2 separate regions of the Homo sapiens genome follow, and region 2 is linked to region 1. Evidence: fine-mapped expression QTL. A gene starts in region 1. The other region holds a variant in brackets. All regions are shown on one strand. Distances are from middle to middle.

Region 1 (12,397 bases):
GCCTCAGCCTCCCGAGTAGCTGGGATTACAGGCATGCACTGCCATGTCCGGCTAATTTTTGTATTTTTAGTAGAGACGGGGTTTCACCATGTTGACCAGGCTGGTCTCCAACTCCTGACCTCAGGTGATCCACCCACTCTGGCCTCCCAAAGTGCTGGGATTACAGGCGTGAGTCACCACACCCCACCTCAACTGCTTGTAAGTGCTTTTAGCTGGATTCCCATAGCTCATTTATTGTGGTTCCCTATTATACACAGCTACTTGTTTGTCTCTCCTCTTAGCTCTATTTACGAGGGCAAAAGTGGTATCTTATTTCAATGTTTTTCAAACAGTAAGACGCAATCCACCATAAATGGATACATTAATTTAGTGAGTTGGAACAAATGTTGCAATAGATTAGAAAATATCGGCCAGGTGCAGCGGCTCACGCCTGTAATCCCAGCACTTTGGGAGGCCGAGGTGGGCAGATCACTAGGTCAGGAGTTTGAGACCAGCTGAGCCAACATGGTGAAACCCTGTCTCTACTAAAAATAAAAAAAAAATTAGTTGGGCATGGTGGCACACGCCTGTAATCCCAGCTACTTGGGAGGCTGAAGCATGAGAATCACTTAAACCCAGGAGGCGGAGGTTGCAATGAGCCAAGATCGCCAAGATCATGCCACTGCACTCCAGCCTGGGCGACAGAAGCAAGACTCCCTCTAAAGAAAAAAGAAAAGAAAAGAAAAGAAAAGAAACTATCAGAGAACACTGAACATAACAAGGATTAAATATAATTCTGAGAAACTTAGTTACACGTGTAGGTATATATAGTGAACTGTGATAGAATATATATTTCTTACTGTGATTTGTGGTAAAAATAAGTTTGACAAATGATCTTATTTAATTATATCTCCGGTGCACACTGGTGAATACACAGCAGGGACTCAAAAAGTGGTTGCAGAAGTAAAACTAGTGTCTACCTATGAGCCACTTGTCTAACCACATTAAAAATACATTGTCATTCATTTCCTTCATCTGGCCAGATGTCCTTCAGTAGGCTTCCACAATCACATTACTTCTGTTCCTTTCCTTTTATCTATAATCATTAACTTTCTCACTTTAAAATGCAGAGTCATTTTCAGAGATTGTTATCTTTCGGACCCAGGCTTCTTTAATTTGTCTAACCTTCCAGTGCTAAATATTCCTTCCTGGCTGGGCACAGTGGCTCACACCTGTAATCCCAGCACTTTCAGAGGCCAAGGTGGGCAGATCACTTGAGGTCAGGAGTTCCTGACCAGGTTGGCCAACATGGTGAAACCCAGTCTCTACTAAAAATACAAAAAATATAGCCAGGTGTGGTGTTGGGTGCCTGTAATCCCAGCTACTCGGGAGGGCTGAAGTAGGAGAATCGGTTGAACTTGGGAAGCGCAAGTTGCTGTCAGCCGAGATTGTGCCACTGCACTCCAGCCTGGGCAACAGAGCAAGACTCCGTCTCAAAAGATAAATAAAAATAAATATTCCTTCCTAAGTTTTATCCTAATGAACCTTCTGTATCATTCAAGAAAAGCCTTTTGCAAGATCCTGCTACTCTTTCAAAGTACTAGCGTTATCACCTTTCTTCCATCCTTAAGTTTTTACAAGTAAGCGTCAACCTTTTGCCCTTGTCTCCCACACCATTCTAAAATCATTGTAATCTGGTTTCTGTTCCAGCTGCTGAGGAGTCCCAAGCTGCCAAAGGACTAAACAGAGCAACCCATTCTCAGCCCTCAGACTCAACTGCTCTGATTGGCTTCTATGAAGACGCCACACCAATCTGTACTCTCTTCTTCCTCTACATAGATTAATACATGGAAGGCACTTGAAAATCTGCCTAGCTCAGAGAAAGTACTTTATAACCGTTAGCTAACTTATTATCTCCACTTATTCCTCCTCTTAACCTCTAACTACAGATTGTGTGCTTGGCAATTTTCTTTTCTCCCCCTCCCACTTTTTCTCTAGATCATGTCCTCTATTCACAAGGTTTCAATGAGCCCATCTGAAAGAATACAAATCTCTCCCATAAATCCAAACCTGTCTCCTGACCCCTAGACCACATTCAGCTTCTCCAAAGCTGTCTTTTTCCAATGACCTTACACTTTATCAACAGCATCATTATTTGCTCTCACCATTTTTCACGTCACTCTCTTACTCATCAGCACTATATGCAATCTATTCTCAAATTTGTCATCCCTACCTCCTCAATGTCTTTTCTATTTCCTAGCTCAGGCCTTCCTCATCACTCATATAATCTACCCCTCCAAACTGGTTTTACACTCCTCCAAAACTCAACTCCACATTGCTGTCAGACAAACCTTACAAACTCATAGCTCTGATTGAGTTACTAAGTCAAAATCCTTCAATGGATCTACCCTACCTTCCCTAAAAAGCCCAAACTTTTGAGCTAGGCATTCGAGAACCAACACAAAATAGATGGCACCGATCCCATCCCCTGGCATTCTCTTTATCCACAACCTGGCCAAGCAGGAAAATTCTTTAGGTCTTCTCTCACTGATGCCTACTGAACATCCCTCCCATATTTTCATACTTCAGCCTGTTGATATTTTACCAACCTTAAAAATCCACTTAAGGCCGGACACTTTGGGAGGCTGAGGTGAGTGGATTGCTTGGGGCCAGGAGTTTGAGACCAGCCTGGCCAACACAGTGAAACCCCATCTCTGCTAAACATACAAAAATTAGCCAGGCATGGCAGTGCGCACCTGTAGTACCAGCTACTCAGGAGGCTGAGGCACGAGAATCACTCGAACCCAGGAGACAGAGGTTGCAGTGAGCCAAGACTGTGCCACTGCACTCCAGCCTAGGCGACGGCGCGAGGCTGTCTTAAAAAAAAAAAAAAAAGTCCACTTAAAACTCCAACTCCTCCACAGGTTTGGGGGGTTTGTTTTTCCTGGTTGACTTCTTCCTTTACCCCAAAGACATTCACTCTCTGTTCCAAACATTCTTAGCAACTGGTAATGACTCTTTCAGGCCTGCCTACATTCTGCAATATCCTACAGCTATTTTACATAATCACCTTAAACTCCCTGCTTAATGAAAAGCTCTTTAAGGGCAAAGACCATTTTTTATGTATCTTTGTAGCCCTTTTGACAATTAACATATCTTCTGACTTTTTTAAAAGAGAAACCTAACCATTAGGAACAGCAAGTAGTGCAGAAGTCCTTGAAAACCTCAGCTACCCCTAGAATACCATGCTAAATGTCACCTAATGGAAGTCCAGGAGAAAGGACCTACAGTTTTTAAATAATCTGGATAGGAGGTAAGGAGGCAATGACTCAAAGTGAGGGCGACAAAAGACAACTCCCTCCGTATTTCACACCTCAGTGTTTTACACACCGTCCCTAGCAAAGGACCTTAAACAGAAAGTTAGGATAATTGGATTCCAGTGCCAACTATGCCATTTACTTGCTTAGTGCCTAGCCATTACCCTCTGAGCCTTTATTCATCTGTTCAATGAGAAGCTTCTACCAGAAGATCTCCAAGTCCCCTCCTTAGACTTCTCTTTTCTACAAAAAGATTAACCTGTTCAGGCACCCAATTCCCTGACAAGTCTTCAAAGCTTCATCCCAAGCCTCACTTCTTCAAATTCCATCTCCAACAACTCTGGTCCTGGCTGCTCTGGGTACTTCAACACCTGCGATCCTCATAATCAAAGCTAAGTCACAAACTGTCTGTCCCCATCGCTCCATAATTGATATGAAAGTGGCCTCGGGAGGGGCAATGCAACCTACTCGGGCAGAAGGTGGGCTTCCTCCTCCCGCTGCTGCTCCACATCAGGTGTGCCCAGTGATCCATAGCCGAACAGTGTCCCTAAGATTGCAGCCTGACTCCCCTCCCGCCTGGGTTCCCTCCTTTCCAGTACCCAACGCTTCTCTAAAACGCAGCCACAGCCCTTCTCACCCAGCAACTCGAGGTTCATCCCTGCGGACTGTGGCCGCCCGGTCTCAGCTCCGGCAACAACACCTTCTCCCCGGCCGGCTTCAGCAACTTGCGTCTAAGTGGTGGACGCCGCGAAGAGACTGGCGCAAGCTCCGAAGACTTTCGGCCTTAGAAGGCCCCGCGGCTTCCGCTTTCTTCCCCCGCCTTCCTTGTTCGTTTCAGGTGGGCTGCCCAAATATATGCCTGACCAAAATCAAGCATACACTCTCTCGGAAACAATTAATTATGATCTTTGCTGAGGTACAACAATGTTATCGTCACTAGGGACTTTAAATAGCGCGACAATTTAAGATTATTTGCTCCGGGAACATGTAGGTGAGGTAGAAATTCCAGGCATACAGTTAACCTACTAGTTCTTGCCCTGTTGTGTGTTCAGCGGCGTTGTCCGGGCGGGCTACCTCAGACTCCGCAGGAAAGGTTCCGGACAAGTCCTGCTAATGCAAGAAACCAGGGAAGGTCGTCCCCTAGTGCTCGGGTGTGTAGCGCCGCTGACCTCACCAAGGCGCGTACTTACCCTGTATGTAGGTGGCGTTGCAGGGTGTTTCGGTCTCGTGAAAATTATTTCTCATTTGTAAAGATATGCTATTGATCCTACAGAAAGGTACGACAACATATGTTAGGCCTGTCTGTGTTAAGATAATAAAAACCTTATTATCTAAGGTTTTACCCTTTACCAAACAGTGTTGACAGGGACGCTGTGAAAAAGACTGTGAAAAAGAATTGGAATGAGGGGTGGACTGAGTTTCCCGGAGCTCAGTCATACAGAACTCCAATGAAATACCCAAAGCAATTAGAGAAGTCCAGTTACTGGTATCTAGCGAAAGAGCAAATTTTATATGAACAAATTCCTACTATAAATGCTGTGGCTCATCAGAAAAAGGAAACAACGTCAAAGGCTCGCTGCAGAAAATAGTACTCGGGCTAGGTCTCCGACAATGGAAAAATACACATACACAAGTTTATTAATCGCAGTATTGTCTGCAATTGCAAACTTTTGGAAACAATAATGAAACTTTTGAACTAGGGAGCCCAGCATTTTCATGTTGCCCAGGGCCCTGCAAATTATGTAGCTAGTCCAGTCTGCCTCTACTTGACAAATTTGCAGAAAAAGCAGCCTCATTCACACAGTGCACCCTGTCCCTGGGCCCCAGTTGATTGCTCTTTCAGTAAGCCCCTGACCTAAGCTCAACCCAATTAAATTCCTTTCCCAAGAATTTGGAATGGGAATTAAGTGGCCCCCACAGTCTGACACATCGATTGAAGAGAGTAAATGTGAATTAAGGAGCTATTTAAAGCGCCTAATAATAGATGGACACCATGGTAGTTGGCTGCAGGTTGCAGAATGAAGCAGAAGTCCAGAAACTAGTCAAAGATAATACTTGGTGTATCCAATTAGTTCCCAAGAACATATTACATTAATGTCTTCTATTTCCATTATCCTTGGACCTTTATAAAGTATGTCTTTTGCAGCCGGGTGCGGTGGCTCACGCCTGTAATCCCAGCACTTTGGGAGGCCGAGGCGGGCTGATCACCTGAGGTCGGGAGTTCGAGACCAGCCTGATCAATATGGAGAAACACTGTCTCTACTAAAAATACAAAATTAGTTGGGCGTGGTGGCTCATGCCTGTTATCCCAGCTACTCGGGAGGCTGAGGCAGGAGAATCGCTTGAACCCGGGAGGCAGAGGTTTCAGTGAGCCAAGATCGCACCATTGCACTCCAGCCTGGACAACAGAGTGAGACTCTGTCTCAAAAAAAAAAAAATCCACAGTTTTTCTACTCTCCAAAGACAAAGGAAAACTTTGCATAAAGGCAAAAGCAACAAGGAAAAATATCGTGTGAAAACCACAGCCTAGTTTCCTCTAAATTCTCTGACTCTACTCTCAAATCCAAAGTAATCATATATATATGTATTTAGAGATATGGTCTCACTCTGTTGCCCAGGCTGGAATGCAATGACGAAACCATAGCTCACTACTGTAACCTTAAATTCCTGGGCACAAGTAATCCTCCTGCCTCAGCCTCCCAAATGCAGGGATTACAGATTACAGCTGTGAGCTACCACGCCTGATTCCAATGTAATAATTTTTACAGATTGGATGCTAATATAGCTAATGAAGTTAAAATTAAAGCTGTTAAAAATAAAAATAGTGAGGCCAGGTGCAGTGGCTCACACCTGTAATCCCAGCACTTTGGGAGGCAGAGGCCAGGCGTATCACGAGGTCAGGAGTTCGAGACCAGCCTGGCCAACATGGTGACACCCCGTCTATACCAAAAATACAAAAAATAGCCAGGTGTGGTGGCGCATGTCTGTAATCCCAGCTACTAGGGAGGCTGAGGCAGGAGAATCGCTTGAACCCAGGAGGTGGAGTTTGCAGTGAGCCAAGATCATGCCATTGCACTCCAGCCTGGGCAACAGCAAGACTTCATCTCAAAATAAATAAATAAATAAAATGAAAATAAAAATAGTGTTAGAAAACCCCTGAGGAATTTTCTTTTCTTTTCTTTTTTTTTTTTTTGAGAGGGAGTCTTGCTCTTGTCGCCTGGGCTGGAGTGCAGTGGCGCAATCTCAACTCAGCACCCGGCCCACTGAGGGATTTTCAGTACACCTTTTTCCTCACACCTCTTTTTCCCTTTCTACCCCTCCAATCCTATTTGGACTTTCTTTTTTTTTCTTTTCTTTCTTTCTTTTCTTTTTTTTTTTTTTTTTTGAGACAGAGTCTCACTCTGTCGTCCAGGCTGGAGTGCAGTGGCATGATCACAGCTCACTGCAGCTCAACCTCCAGGCTCAAGTGATTTTCCCACCTCAGTCCCCCCAAGTAGCAGGGACTATAGGCAGGCACCAACATGCCCAGCTAATTGTTGTAGTTTTTGTAGACAGGGATTCACCATGTTGCCCAGGCTGGACTCGAACTCCTGGGCTCAAGCTGTCTGCCCACATCGGCCCCGCAAAGTGCTGCCATTACAGGTGGTGAGTCACCATGCCTGGCCTTTTTCTTTTAAAAAAAAAAGAAAGTTTAAATAACCTGTAAAAATTAGAGAGCAAGCCATGGCACTTCAAAAAAAGGGAAGTGATCTATTTGACAACGCCAGATCTCATCAGTAATCAGTAAAATGCAAATTAAGTCACAATTAGATATTTACAACGACAAAGTTGACAAACTAAAAGAAGAGCACCCAAAATTCTTGTAAGAGAATTCTCTCAAGAGAATGTGAATCAGTACAACCACGTCGGAAAACAATTTCTTGTTATGTAGTAAAAATGACCTTGTTTACATTTTTATACACTATGACCAGGAAATTCTACCTGTAGGTATATATTGTAGAAAAACTCTTGCACAAGTGCACCAGGAAACATGTACAATGGACATAGTACCATTGTTCATAATAGCAAAAAAAAATCACAAATAGCCCAAACATCAAAAACTGTAGAATGGCTATATCCTGATATATTCATATAATGAAATCAGCAATAAGCAGCTAATTGGCCCCCCTGCTACCTACCTCTCTTCTACTGAAACTCATTCTTTTTTTTTTTTTTTTTTTTTTGAGACGGAGTCTCGCTCTGTCACCCAGGCTGGAGTGCAGTGGCGCAATCTTGGCTCACTGCAAGCTCTGCCTCGCGGGTTCACGCCATTCTTCTGTCTCAGCCTCGCGAGTAGCTGGGACTACAGGTGCCCGCCATCGCGTCTGGCTAATTTTTTGTATTTTTAGTAGAGACGGGGTTTCACCTTGTTAGCCAGGATGGTCTCGATCTCCTGACCTCGTGATCCGCCCTCCTCGGCCTCCCAAAGTGCTGGGATTACAGGCGTGAGCCACCGCACCCGGCCTGAAACTCATTCTTTTCCAGTCACATTGGCACTGCCTTGCTATTATATGAGCTTGCTAAGCACTTTATTCCTGCAGGAATGTAGCACTTTTGTTCCCTCTGCCTGAATCCCTCTTTATTTGTGTGTGTGTGTGTGTGTGTGTGTGTGTGTGTGTGTGTGTGTGTGTGACGGAGTCTTGCTCTGTCACCCAAGCTGGAGTGCAGTGGTGCAGTCCCCACTCACTGCAACCTCCGCCTCTTGAGTTCAAGCAATTCTCCTGCCTCAGCCTCCCAAGTAGCTGGGATTACAGGCATGCCCCACCATGCCCAGCTAATTTTTGTATTTTTAGTAGAGACAGGATTTTGCCGTGTTGGCCAGGCTGGTCTCGAACTCCTGACCTCAGGTGATCTGCCCACCTCAGCTTCCCAAAGTGCTGGGATTACAGGCGTGAGCCACTGTACCCGGCCCCTACTTCATTTTCCTTCATGGTAGTTATCACCGCTTGTCCCATTATACATTGATTCATTTATTTGTTTCTTCATTGTCTCCCTTTTACGAGAGTATAAGCTCCTTAAAGGTAAGTACTTTGTCAATTTTATTCACAGATATGCCATTGTGCCTAGAAAAGAAAGGGCATACAGGTGCTTTAATATGTATTTGTAAAATATTTGCAAAATAAATGAATCAGTATAATTAATGCAAAGATTTTTTCAGACTGGCTTCAGAGACAGAGGCTCTCAGACTGGCTTAAGAAATTAAAAATAATCCTTTTTATTCATTCTGCAGAAGATAAACAAATATATTGAGATGGCCGTCTCAAAATCTAAAAGCTGTTCTAGCTTTTTAAAGTTATTTGGAAATAAAAATTAAACTTTTTTTGTACGAAACCCTCAGCAGTTCGTTGTGATTTCAGATTATATCATAAGTGATCAACAGTAATACAATTTATGAGCCATTGTTATCTCTTACACTAATTATTCTTTTTTTAACTATATATATATATTTTAGAGATGGTGCGGGGGGGGGTCTCCCTATGTAGCCCAAGCTGGTCTCGAACTCCTGGGCTCAAGTGATCCTCCCACCTCAGTCTCCCAAAGTGCTGAGATTACAGGCATGAGCCATCATGCCTGGCCTACTTATGCTTCGTGAAGTCACATAGTTATTTAAAATATGTCTTATGATTCTTGATAAATAAAAAGATTTATATTTTAGATGAGTAATAAGACCATTTACCAGTAGAAACCCTTGTTCTTTACATTGTATAATAGTGTAGAAAAACATGGTAGAGAAGTCTGCCACTTAAAAAATAAAGCAGAGAGATGAGAATAAAATAATTATAAAAGACTACTTTTTGTACCACTTCATGACAAGAAATTAAAAAATCTAAAGGAAGCCAGGTGTGGTGGTTCACACCTGCAATCGCAGTACTTAGGGAGGCTGAGGCAGGAAGATCACTTGAGCCCAGGAGTTCGAGACAAGCCTGGGCAAAATAGTGAGACCCTGTTCTAAAAAAGAATAAAAACGGCTGGGCACAGTGGCTCACGCCTGTAATCCCAGTGCTTTGGGAGGCTGAGGCGGGCAGATCATGAGGTCAGGAGTTCGAGATCAGCCTGGCCAACATGGTGAAACCCCATCTCTACTAAAAGAATAAAAATTAGCCAGGCATGGTGGCATGTGCCTCTAATCCCCACTACTAGGGGGGCTGAGGCAGGAGGATCGCTTGAACCTGGGAGGTGGAGGTTGCAGTAAGCTGAGATCGTACCACTGCACTCCAGTCTGGGCAACAGAGCGAGACCCCGTCTCAAAAAAAAAAAAAAATACAGCTTTCTGATAACTTTAGGATCACATCATTTGGACTAGGTAAGAATTCTCAGAACTCTAATAAAAGGAATGACTGGTTTATAAAACTGCTAACCCAAACAGGACAAGAATTAATTGAAGGCTGGGGTAGTGCCTCATGCCTGTAATCCCGGCACTTTGGGAGGCCAAGGCAGGAGGATCCCTTGAGCCCAAGAGTTTGAGGCCTGTCTAGGCAACATGGGGAAACCCTGTCTCTACAAAAAATATAAAAATTAGCCGGACATAGTGGTGCATGTCTGTAGTCCCAGTTACTTGGGAGGCTGAAGTGGAAGGATTGCTTAAGCCTGGGAGGGGGAAGTTGCGGTGAGCTGAGACTGCACCACTGCACTTCAGCCTAGGCAACAGAGTGAGACCCTGTCTCAAATAAATAAATAAATAATTGAATACCAAGAAAATACTTTGCCAAATTGTCATACTAGATCAGCCAGTATGGAAATTGTTAAGATGTGCAATTTGAATAAATTCCATGGTCCAACTCAAATTACCTATGCTAACCCATCTAATAAACAGTGCTATGCACCTAAATTGGGGAAACACAGTTGGTATTAAAATATAAGTCCAATATTAGGCGCAGACTCATGGAGAACCCTGATGGCTGCCTGGCCCTTCCTGAGTCCTTAAAGCCTCCATTATTAAGCTTTCCATGATTCATCATGAAGAGATAAAATGTTCCAAATTAAATGTGTGTGTATGTGTGTGCGTGAGTGGGTGTGTATGATGACTGTTCTAAATTGCTAAAATAGTTTATGATCAATGTTTTGTTTGTTAAACCCATAATCCTGGGAAGATGAACACAACTTCAAGTACATTTCTGCTACCTGATGGGTCACTTAAACCTTTATAGAAGAATTTTATTCAATTGTCATTTTCAGTGCATGTTTTCTGGTTGTAGTGATAGAAGTACTAATACTTATTTCACTGGACAAGTTGTAAAAACAGTTTTATTTATTTATTTTGTTTTTTTTTAATTTTTTAATTTTTATTTTTTTGAGACGGAGTTTCACTCTGGTTGCCCAGGCTGGAGTGCAATGGCGCGATCTCGGCTCACTGCAACCTCCGCCTCCCACCTCCTGGGTTCAAGCAATTCTCCTGCCTCAGCCTCCCTAGTAGCTGGGATTACAGGCGCCTGCCACCACACCCGGCTAATTTTTTCTATTTTTAGTAGAGACGGGGTTTCACCATGTTGGCCAGGCTGGTCTTGAACTCCTGACCTCAGGTGATCTGCCCACCTCAGCTTCCCAAAGTGCTGGGATTACAGGCATGACCCACCGCGCCTGGCCTATTTATTTATTTATTTATTTTTCAGACAGAGTTTCACTCTTGTTGCCCAGGCTGGAGTGCAATGGTATAATCTCGACTCACTGCAACCTCTGCCTCCCAGATTCAAGTGATTCTTCTGCCTCAGCCTCTCAAGTAGCTGGGATTACAGGCATGTGCCACCACACCCAGCTAATTTTGTATTTTTAGTAAAGGTGGTGTTTCATTATGTTGGCCAAGCTGGTCTTGAACTCCAGACCTCAGGTGATCCACCCTCCTCGACCTCCCAAAGTGTTGGGATTACAGGCATGAGCCACGGCGTCTGGCCATAAAACAGTTTTTTGTTTTTTTTTGGTTTTTTTGAGATAGAATGTCCCTCTGTTGTCCAGGCTGGAGTGCAATGGCATGATCTCAGCTCACTGCAACGTGTGCCTCCCGGATTCAAGTGATTCTTCTGCCTCAGCTTCCCAAGTTGCTGGGATTACAGGCAACTGCCACCATGCCTGGCTAATATTTATATTTTTAGTAGAGATGGGGTTTCACCATGTTGGCCAGGCTGGTCTCAAACTCCTGACCTCAGGCGATCCTCCTGCCTTGGCCTCCCAAAGTGTTGGGATTACAGGCATGAGCCACCGCGGCTGGCCAGTTTTTAAAAAAGGATTGCAGATACAATAACATTAGGCAAAGCTAACTGAATTGACTAGATTGCCTTGGTCAAAGGTGTACCAGATTGATGACAATCAGATCCACTTCCAGTAGAAGATGGAAGTTGACCCCTTATGAAATAAATAGTCACTGGAAAGGCCTATGCACCTAATAATAGAACGTCTTGTATCTTCTGCTACTAAATACTGATATGACTAAATGCTACAAGGTTTTAATGCATTATGCCAAAGTGTATTTTCACCAGGTTAAAAAAAACTTTCATAGTCCACTGACTGAGGACAATCAAACCTTTCACAATCTAGAACCTGGAGATCGATTGGGTCTTCTGAGGGCAACATCACAGAAAAACTGCCCTTGGCATCCACAATGCAGCAAAACTTTGAGATCCTGAACCTTGGTCTCATAATCTCACAACTCAGAAGGGCCTCCTCCAGACTCTTGGAACTGTATACTGATTGGAAACCTTAAGGTAAAGCTAACCAGGGAAGATTCTCTCCAGAAGCAGATGGCATCCCAGATGTAGACAGCTTTTTCTCAAGATCATGGATCAAGATTGTACTATCATGATACTCTTCTCTCTCAAATTTTTTCTTGCTTGTGCCTGTATGAACAATAGAACTGAAAAAGTGATCTCATGTGTGTACTCATGGGGTATACTTTTATTTGTAGAGGATTTTGCAGCCACATGGACAGTCTTACACTTTGATAGATAGAAGATAAAAGGCCAGTGTCAGGGGAAAAAGAAAGAAAATTCTTAGAAGCACTTTATTAAGCACTTAATTTATCCCTTTTTTTTTTTTTTTTTTCTGAGACAGTGTCTTACTCTGTCACCCAG
Region 2 (10,490 bases), 56 kb before region 1:
AGTAAATGTTTGCTGCAGTGAGTGAAAAAAACAGAAACCAAATCAATCAGATTTGTGTAACCCAACCCTTTCAGCTATGTGAGCTTTGGCAAGTTACTTAGTGTTTCTGTGTTTCAGTTTCTTGATTATAAAATATAGGCAATAATAGTCCTGCCCTCCTGGGCTGCTGTATGGAACAAGTGAGATGAAAGAGGTACAGCATAAAGGGCCTGCCCACCATACAGCAGGTGCCCGGGAAATGTAAGCCAGTGCTAATATTTAGTTGTGTGACTTGAGCTCACTGAGCCTCAGTTTCCTCATCCATAAAATGGACACAGTGATACCCACCACATCAGGTTTTAGTGAAGCTTTGCTAAGAAGCATTCATTCGTTCCTTCATCCATTCAACCACTACTTACTCAACACTTCACAGGGATGAATATAAAAGATACGGTCTCTGCCTTTAAGTAGCTTACAATCCAGTAGAGGGAAAGGGACAAATAAACCCCAAATCAAACAATTAAATAATTTCAGCTAGCCATCAAATATAGTATAAAGAAAATCCAGGCAGGGTGCAGTGGCTCATGCCTGTGTAATCCCAGCACTTTGGGAGGCAGGGGTGAGTGGATCTCCTCAAGCTCAGGAGTTTGAGACCAGCCTGGGCAACATGGTGAAACCCCATGTCTATGAAAAACACAAAATTTAGCCAGGCATGGTAGCACACACGTGTAGTCCCAGCTACACAGGAGGCTGAGGCAGGAGAATCACTTGAGCCCTGGAGGCAGAGGCTGCAGTGAACTGAGATTGTGCCATTGCACTCCAGCCTGGGCAACACAGCAAGACTTGTCTTTTAAAAAAAAAAAAAGAAGAAGAAAGAAAAGAAAAGAAAAAGAAAGAAAGAAAGAAAGAAAGAAAAGAAAAGAAAACCCAGTAGAGTGATGGGCGTGAGATGGGCCTGTTAGGTGGGGTGGTCAGAGAAGTCCTCTCTGAGGAAGTCTCATTTAGACTGTGACCTGAATGTTAAGAAGCCAGCCGCGTGAAGATCTGGGGAATTTCCAGGCAAGATTTACAGCAAGTGCAAAGCTCTGGAGGCAGGAAAAGACTTCACAACTTCAAAAGAGAGAGAGAGAGAAAAAAAAAGGCTAGGTGATTGGAACATAATGAATGGGGGATAGAGTGGAGCAAGATGCGATTGGAAAGGTGGAGACTTATTTGTGAAGAGCCGGGCTTCACTGAGTGTGAGTTGAAAAAGCTGTTCATTCCCAACTGGGTGGAGAAAAGATTGTAGAAGGAAGGTGCAGAAACAGGAAGACTGATGTGGGGTGGCAGGGGTGGTGGTGAGGGGCGGAGGGGGGGCGCGTTGTCAATAGTCCAGGCGGGAGATTTGATAGCTTAGGCCAGAGAAAAAAGGGCTTGGTTCTGGATGCATTCTGGAAGAGGTGCTAATAGGAGTCACTCATGGCGTGGCTTCAAAGGGCACGCCAAGTAACGTCTTAATCAAGGGTGACAGTACTTTTCTCTGTGGCTCTCCCCTTTCCTTCTAGCACTCGCCCCTGACTTCAGGCTGAATCCCGTGAGGCGTCTGATCCCCGCGGCCCGCGGGGGAGAGATCCTTATCCCCTGCCAGCCCCGGGCAGCTCCAAAGGCCGTGGTGCTCTGGAGCAAAGGCACGGAGATTTTGGTCAACAGCAGCAGGTACCACCCACACCCCACCCTGCACAGTTCCTGCTCCTCCTCATTCTCCATGGAGGCCAATTCCCCTCCTGTGACAACAGTCACAGGAGTTGGCCAGCCCCAGGGACAACCATGCCTGAGTTGGCCACATCTGCCTTGTCCTTGCCACAGAGTGACTGTAACTCCAGATGGCACCTTGATCATAAGAAACATCAGCCGGTCAGATGAAGGCAAATACACCTGCTTTGCTGAGAACTTCATGGGCAAAGCCAACAGCACTGGAATCCTATCTGTGCGAGGTGAGGGCTGCCATGTGGGTAGGCCGGGGGCTCAGCCTCCTCAGGGTACTGTCCTCCCCATCATCCTGCTCCTGTGTCCACATTGCTCCTAGTTTGGTGTCAAGGCCACCCCAGGATTCAGTTTTGCTTGGGACCACCCCCTGGCCACCACTGAGACTCTGGTCATGCCTCCCTGCCTGCCACACACTCATGCAGTCCTGGGCAGTTGGGACCTGTGGGTCACACCACCTCTTCTCTTTGCTGGGCCTTAGGACAGAGCCTCTCAGCCTGCCCTGCGGACCCGGCCTGGGCCCATTTCCTCCCCCATCCACCCAAGGGCCTTGTTTTTCTTGGCAGATGCAACCAAAATCACTCTAGCCCCCTCAAGTGCCGACATCAACTTGGGTGACAACCTGACCCTACAGTGCCATGCCTCCCACGACCCCACCATGGACCTCACCTTCACCTGGACCCTGGACGACTTCCCCATCGACTTTGATAAGCCTGGAGGGCACTACCGGAGAACTAATGTGGTGAGACCTAGGGCCAGAGCCCCATGGCTTCTCCCTCCTTCTAGAGAGACAGGGGCCCCAAGATGTCCTTAGCCATCCTCACCTTTAAGAAACCCATAGCCTAAGCGCCCCCATTCCCTCAGGCCCACACATGGCAAGCTCATCCTTGGATGAACAGCTGACCTTCCTGGATTCCACCCAGGGACCATGCATTTAGGAGAGGGTTAGGGACAAACCTGGAGTTGTGGGCAGCCACCAAGACACTCCCACTACTGTTCTTGTTAGCCTGTCCCCTAGGGCAAATGATATTATTAATGTGGACAGTCATTGACTGTCTCCTGAAACAAACTTTGCTGTTTAGTCCCCAGTGGTTCTAAGTGATGAGTCGTGATTCCTCCCATTGAGCAGACAGGAAAACTGAGATCCAGTGGGGTCCATGGATGTCATGGAGTAGGGGACTCCCAAGCGCTGCCTCATGTCTCATGGCCTGCTGCACTGGTCAGGGCCGGTGGTCTGACCTGCTGCCCCTAACTGTCCCCGTGTGCAGAAGGAGACCATTGGGGATCTGACCATCCTGAACGCCCAGCTGCGCCATGGGGGGAAGTACACGTGCATGGCCCAGACGGTGGTGGACAGCGCGTCCAAGGAGGCCACAGTCCTGGTCCGAGGTGAGGGGTTTCCCACCTCTACCCCTACCCCAACTCCCTTAAAACCCAGCTGGGCTGTTCTGACCTGCTCGCCTCATCTCCCCTCCCTTCCCTCAAAGCTGCGGGGAAGGGCTTCCGGCGGAACTCCTGTGAGCTGGATATACCCTGTGGTTCTTCACAGGTCCTAAATGATCAGGACATTTTTCTTCCAAAGTCAAAGTTTAAAAAATCCACTCCTAAACACATCCCAAGACAGGAGTGCTTTACTGAGCCCTGAAGTTTTCAAAGCCTAGTGCTGGGAGATCTATGCACCTCTCCATGTGACAGCCTCTGTGAGCTCCCCCAGCCTTGAGACACATCCCTCCACCCAACAACTGGCACCCGCCCCAACTGCCCACACCCCTTGCCCGCCCTCCCGCCTGGGTGTGTGTTCACTGC[A/G]TCCTCTGCTGCCCTGTCTTGGTACTGTACCAGCTCAAGCCTGGCTGGGAGGAGGTTGGCTCAAATTGGAAGCTGCCCAATTCTGACCCACTGTGCTCTGACCTCTTGGTGCAGGTCCGCCAGGTCCCCCAGGAGGTGTGGTGGTGAGGGACATTGGCGACACCACCATCCAGCTCAGCTGGAGCCGTGGCTTCGACAACCACAGCCCCATCGCTAAGTACACCCTGCAAGCTCGCACTCCACCTGCAGGGAAGTGGAAGCAGGTTCGGACCAGTAAGTGTGAGCCCCACCTGGGTCAGTGCTGATAAGGCTCGACTGGGTGTAGGAGGTGGAAAGGGTCAAGGTTTGGGGATCGGGGTCTGAGGGCCAGGGCTGAGCCTGGAGCTTCAAAGAGGGACAAGATCTGTCCTCTGCCAGCAGAGAGCATGCAGGCAGGCAGGAAGACAGTCACACAGAAAGTAGGAGAGTCGGGAAAGAGTTAGAAGAGGAGGCGCTTGGTCTATGCCCTTGAAGAATTGGTAGGATTGTTACTGGAGCAATGAAAATATTCATGGGGACATAGGGGCGTAGGCGTGCACACAGCATTGCAGAGGCACCAAGATAGGGAAATTGAGTAGTTTTTCAATCATTTCTGAAAAAGGTACTGAGTGCTTAGTATATGGCAAGTACCGAAGTGAGGGCTGGGTAGATAAGGGGTGATTCAGGCCAGTGCCTGCCCTCTGCACCCAGATGAATAAGCGAATGCTGGAATATGGACTCCCTGGTGCCTTGCAGATCCTGCAAACATCGAGGGCAATGCCGAGACTGCACAGGTGCTGGGCCTCACCCCCTGGATGGACTATGAGTTCCGGGTCATAGCCAGCAACATTCTGGGCACTGGGGAGCCTAGTGGGCCCTCCAGCAAAATCCGGACCAGGGAAGCAGGTGAGAGTCCTGTGTGTCCCAAAAAGCTATCATCAGGGCAGAGACCCTGGCACCACTTATAGGGAATGCCAAGCCAGCCGCAATTATGCTGAGTTCCAACCCTGCTCACAGGGTTCAGACTCTCACAAAACAGAGGAGGACAGAACACCAAGTTGGGACCAGGGCCACTGCATGGACAAACCATCTAGTCCAAACTCCTCATTTAAAAACTGGCCAACCTTACAACTGCATGTGCATCTATAATTTTTTTAAGTTTAATTTTTAAAAGTGGAAAAACCAAAGTTCGGAGAAAGGAAGAGTCACATTGACAGAGCTTGGACTTGAACCCAGGACCATGGGGTGGTAGACAGATGTCTTCCTGGAAGAGTATGCACTACAGAAATCAGTTAATGCTGGCTGGGCGCAGTGGCTCAAGCCTGTAATCCCAGCACTTTGGGAGGCCGAGGCAGGCAGATCACCTGAGGTCAGAAGTTTGAGACCAGCCTGGCCAACATGGTGAAACCCCGTCTCTACTAAAAATACAAAAATTAGCCAGGCGTGGTGACACACACCTGTAAATCCCAGCTACTCGGGAGGCTGAAGCAGGAGAATCGCTTGAACCCGGGAGGTGGAGGTTGCAGTGAGCCAAGATTGTACCACTGCACTCCATCCTGGGCGACAGAGCGAGACTCCATCTCAAAAAAAAAAAAAAAAAAAAAAAAAAAAGAAAGAAAAAAAGGAAATCAGTTGATGTGAAAGATGTGTGTGTGTTCTGTGCAGGGGGCTAGGGAAGCAGCCAGTGTCTCCAAGCCTTTAGATGGTTTCTTTGGGAGCAGATGGAATTGAATAACCTGCCCACAACCCTCAGCAAAAAGCGTGTGGGTGTCAGAACTTGAGTGGAGAAGGAGGGGGAGAAAAGAACCCAGGAGAGAGTAGGGGAGGCACAGGCTCCAGTCAGCATCTGCTGAGAGGCTCCTGCCCATCTCCGAGCCATTCGCAGGGGAAGGCCTGGAATGAGAGCCCGGGGATCCTGGGACCAGGAGCATAGATTAAGGACCCTGCCTCACCTCCTCTACAGACCTGTTGCACTGGATGTGTAGTGAGGGTCCACCTTCTTGTCTGCCTGAAACATGTTCTCCTACATGCCCCAGACTGACTCTCCAGGCCCTTTTTCTAGAATCACTCAACATTTTTAGCTGGTACCTCTCCTGAGTAAGAAATTCCAGAGGCAGCACTTTCTTTGATTGATCCTGAACTTCTTGGAGGGTCAAATGTGGAGAAATGAGGGGACTCCTTTATTCTATTTACAGCATCCCAGTAGCTGAGGAGCACAAAGACAGCTGTGATGCAAAGGAAACATGATGGGCTTTAAAATGAGAAGGGCTGAGTTCAGATTCTACCTGTGCCATGTATTAACTGTGTGACCTTAGGCAAGTTGATTAACTGCTCTGGGCCTCAGTCTTTCCACCCTGAAAAGGGCAATAATAACACCCACCTCACAGGATCAAATGGCCAATGTGTTTAAGTACCTCTTGCAAATTACACGGTCCTAAACTATTGTCATCAGAAGCAAGTGAAAAATCTCCAGCTGCTGGATTCTCTACGGAAATATTTTGACCCCCAGCCAAGTTACTTTCTGCCAAGCTGCAGGAGCTGATGAAATAAATTCCTGTTTTAATATCAGCCTTGTTTAATACTAGAGACAATTAGGAGATTAAATCTGCAACAAAAAGAAAAATAGATAATATATCACCCTGGAGCCCAAAAGTAGTTTGTTTTGTTTGTTTGTTTGTTTGTTTGTTTGTTTGTTTGTTTGCATTAACTGCAGTTCTGGGTTATTTATTCCCCTTATTTTAAAGCGAGTGAGAGTTGGTCTCTGTGATTTAGTTTAAGTTGATGGAGTAAGGAGGACAATGATCATGTGTGCATCATCTGCTCTATACTAACCACCGTCTTGTCTAATTTCATTCTCATTATGGCCTCTGAGAGAAACATGATTATCTTCATGGAGAAGAGAATCAGAGGCTCAGAAAGGTTAAGTGACTTGCCCAGGGAAGCACAGCTAGTAAATGGCAGAGGTGGGATTTGATTTCAGGACTGCCTGACTCCAAAGCCTATGTTCAGAGGGACCACTGGGGGGCAAACCCAGGGCCCAGTTGAAGGGGTTCCCATCTTACGGTGCTCTACAGGCACAGGCTCAGGGCTTTCATTTTTTCCTTGCTCATTAACAAGCCATATCGGTGTCCCTTGGCCCTTGACAGCCCCCTCGGTGGCACCCTCAGGACTCAGCGGAGGAGGTGGAGCCCCCGGAGAGCTCATCGTCAACTGGACGGTAAGCTGCAAGGGTCAGATGTCCTCCTCCTCCTCCCTGACCCCTCTCCCGCTTGAGCAGCTGCAGAAAGGACCACTGCACAGCTCTGACTCAAACGCGGATAACTTCCTGTCCCCCTTCCACGCACCCGCTGCCCCTTACGCGAATCCACGCTGCAGGCGTAGGCGTCCAGGGCCGCTACTCTTGGCAAAGGTTGGGTGGGGCCAGGGAACGGGCAGGGACACATGCCGCGGACCCTCGCCCATGCCATGCTCTTGCCCCTCAGCCCATGTCACGGGAGTACCAGAACGGAGACGGCTTCGGCTACCTGCTGTCCTTCCGCAGGCAGGGCAGCACTCACTGGCAGACCGCCCGGGTGCCTGGCGCCGATGCCCAGTACTTTGTCTACAGCAACGAGAGCGTCCGGCCCTACACGCCCTTTGAGGTCAAGATCCGCAGCTACAACCGCCGCGGGGATGGGCCCGAGAGCCTCACTGCACTCGTGTACTCAGCTGAGGAAGGTGGGCTGCCCCTGGGCCCCCTGCTCGTCCCTACCCCAGCCACTTGTCCACAGGGATGTGGGGTGGGGGAACGCTACTCATCTCCCAGCTCAGTTCCATAGGAGGAGGTTGAGAGGACACCTGGGTTCCACATCATTGGCCTCACTTCCAGCTCTTGCTACCTTGTCTCCCTTCGGGGTTAGGAAAAGGGAGGCTCTCTGGGAATAGAAGTGGGCCCTGGAGCATTGCTTGGGGGGCTCCCACTCGGCCTTCATCCTGAAGGCTTTCCTCCAAAATCTTAAGCAAAGGCAATCCTGGTTGGGGGCTGCTCTGCAGGACACAGGGGGGCCCTGGGAATCCAAACCCATTCTGTATTGGTCCCCAGAGCCCAGGGTGGCCCCTACCAAGGTGTGGGCCAAAGGGGTCTCATCCTCAGAGATGAACGTGACCTGGGAACCCGTGCAGCAGGACATGAATGGTATCCTCCTGGGGTATGAGGTGAGCACCAACCTGGGACTTGGGAGAGGAAGGGGTGCTGGGGCTTCAAAGCCAGGTGGGAACAACTCACAGACCACTAATCATTCCTCCTGGCGTCCCTGGTTCGCTGACATGGCAAACTGAGCATCCAGTCTGTGTAGCACTGTGAATGCAAATTTCACTAAGACCCCATGGCAGGCCAGGCGCGGTGGCTCATGCCTGTAATCCCATCACTTTGGGAGGCTGAGGCGGTAGATCTCCTGAGATCAGGAGTTTGAGACCAGCCTGGCCAACATGGTGAAGCCCCGCCTCTACTAAAAATACAAAAATTAGCTGGGCATGGTGGCCCATGCCTGTAATCCCAGCTACTCAGGAGGCTGAGGCAGGAGAATCGCTTGCGTTCAGGAGGCAGAGGTTGCAGTGAGCTGAGATTGCGCCACTGCACTCCAGCCTGGGTGACAAAGCGAGACTCCATCTCAAAAAAAAAAAAAAAAAGACCCCATGGCTTATGCCCATTGGGGAAGACAGACCCTGGAGGCAGCCTTAAAGTAAATGCTTGGCTAGAGCCAGCATTGGAAGCTGAGAGGGTAGAAGGAACAGGTTCTGGGAAGGGGCATGGCCTGCCCCTTTCATCCCAGAGCCCATTCAGGCTGGCCTGTCCAGGGCTGCACAGAAAACAGCCTGAGCCGCTCTATGGACAGTTGATCATCCTGTCCCGGGGGAATCTGGGGCCCAGCAGTCTGGCCTGAGTCCTGGGCCCACTGAGAACTCCACAAAGGGGTACCTGTGGAGCAGATGGCAAGTGATGGGAAGCAAGAGGGAGAGAAAGAAGGAAAAGCAAGAAGAAACCATCAAGCTGGGCCTACTAGTGATAGCACAAGTTCATTCTAGTAGAGTACTCTAGATTTGAGTACAATAGCTTAGGCAAGCCACAGTGTGGAGATAATTCCAAACTCTGCCCTTGCCTCTGCCTTTGAAAGCATATTTAGCAGGTCTTCATGCTATGATTACCATGAAAATGGGTTTGCATTTATTAGGCAACCTTCAGAAGCTTGCTTAGGGCCAGGGGACTACTTTGCAATACAAATAAGCATTTTCTGTCCCTTAGCAGAATGCCCACGGTAGCCCCCCAAGTTAATGAAATGAAATGGGTTCCAGCAGGCCATTGCTAGGTTGAGCCTGTGCCACCAGCTCCCTCCCTGACCCATGTCTTGAGCACCTTCCTTGAACTACGCACCAACAGACAGCAGGGACTCACACCCACATGGCCCTGCTGTCTGGGTGCTCATGATCTAGTCTCCAGGTTCTGAGGCCTAAGACTGGGTCACAGGGACCAGGATGAGCAAGAGAGGAACAGAATGTGGGGGCCGGGGCAGCCCTGAGATCCTGGGCTTGACTACTACCCCTTGGGTACCCCCGCCTCCTTCAGATCCGCTACTGGAAAGCTGGGGACAAAGAAGCAGCTGCGGACCGAGTGAGGACAGCAGGGCTGGACACCAGTGCCCGAGTCAGCGGCCTGCATCCCAACACCAAGTACCATGTGACCGTGAGGGCCTACAACCGGGCTGGCACTGGGCCTGCCAGCCCTTCTGCCAACGCCACGACCATGAAGCCCCGTGAGTCTGTCTGCCTGGGGTGGGGGTAGGGCAATATTTTGGAGGGTGGGTGCCTCTGAGATCATTCCTTCCCCAATGATAAGACAAATGCTCTAGCCCACCAGCTCTGGGCTGAACAGAAATTAGGCAGCGAGCCTAATGGAAATAAGGGAATGGAATTCATGGCCCCTGAAGCGTCTCACACTTCTCCAACCTTTGGATTTTCATGGGCTTTGTTTCGTGGGCATGACAGAATGTGCTGGGTGTAACTGCTAGAGGCAAACATCCAGAGAAGGGCTGGTTAAAGGTGAGGGGGTGCGGGGTGCCAGGGAAACGTTTGGACATCTCTCCAATTCTTCCTCTCTGGCAGCTCCGCGGCGACCTCCTGGCAACATCTCCTGGACTTTCTCAAGCTCTAGTCTTAGCATTAAGTGGGACCCTGTGGTCCCTTTCCGAAATGAGTCTGCAGTCACCGGCTATAAGGTGAGGAAGCAATCAGCTAGGCCCAGAATGGGAAGGAACAGCTCCTCTGTGTTTCCAGTGAACATAAGCAGCAGCAATTTATAGCAAGAGGCATCTGAGTGAGACATAAGCAAAGGGTTTGTGACTGTGAGAGGAATGAAATTCATGAACTATTCTCTCAGTAACTTGCAGTAGAAACTATAAAAACGGGCAGATGGTATCACTGCAGAAAGGCAGAGTTCACAGGGGCAGTGATGGACTATGGGGATGGAGTATGGGGGTTCTTCTAGCTTAAGGAGTCTACGGAAACAGTTCAGTGGCCTGCAAGCTTTCCTCCACCAATGAGGAGCTTTGTCAATGGGGAGGAGGGGTGAGGAGGCTGGACCTCAAGAGCCCAGAACCATCGGGTCTCCTCCCAGTACCTAAAGCTGGGGATGACTCAACGATCAGCCCTGGTGTCAGGAAACTCCACCTGGAAACCTCCTTCCCACAGATGCTGTACCAGAATGACTTACACCTGACTCCCACGCTCCACCTCACCGGCAAGAACTGGATAGAAATCCCAGTGCCTGAAGACATTGGCCATGCCCTGGTACAAATTCGGACCACAGGGCCCGGAGGGGATGGGATCCCTGCAGAAGTCCACATCGTGAGGAATGGAGGTGCTGCTCCTCCCCTACCCTTATCCCCTCGAGAGATTCAGGATCCACCCAG

Direction of the effects. Alleles are on the strand shown, and positions count from the first base shown. SD is a standard deviation of normalised expression in the study named.
In carriers of allele A in region 2, the expression in anterior cingulate cortex of the gene that starts at base 4,057 in region 1 tends to be higher than with G alone (small effect, 0.29 SD a copy in GTEx).

Evidence for each region.
Region 2: its variant is fine-mapped to the expression of RBBP5 in anterior cingulate cortex (GTEx, PIP 0.90).

Annotation. Positions count from the first base shown.
Region 1 is chr1:205,117,922-205,130,318 of GRCh38, forward strand. It overlaps RBBP5 (RB binding protein 5, histone lysine methyltransferase complex subunit), which reads right to left and starts at 4,057. Exons shown (of 14, transcript NM_005057.4): 1 at 3,934-4,057. The coding sequence starts at 3,952. RefSeq lists enhancers at 2,117-2,675, 3,839-4,018, 4,159-4,378 and a silencer at 4,740-5,034.
Region 2 is chr1:205,062,799-205,073,288 of GRCh38, forward strand. CNTN2 (contactin 2) reads left to right here. Exons shown (of 23, transcript NM_005076.5): 11 at 1,524-1,674; 12 at 1,825-1,952; 13 at 2,289-2,464; 14 at 2,991-3,111; 15 at 3,643-3,801; 16 at 4,303-4,452; 17 at 6,693-6,763; 18 at 7,029-7,263; 19 at 7,628-7,740; 20 at 9,149-9,335; 21 at 9,685-9,797; 22 at 10,270-10,438. Among named protein-coding and RNA genes, the nearest start is that of TMEM81, 16 kb to the right of the region's middle. RefSeq lists an enhancer at 9,620-10,490. The variant A/G (reference allele first, on the strand shown) is at 3,529.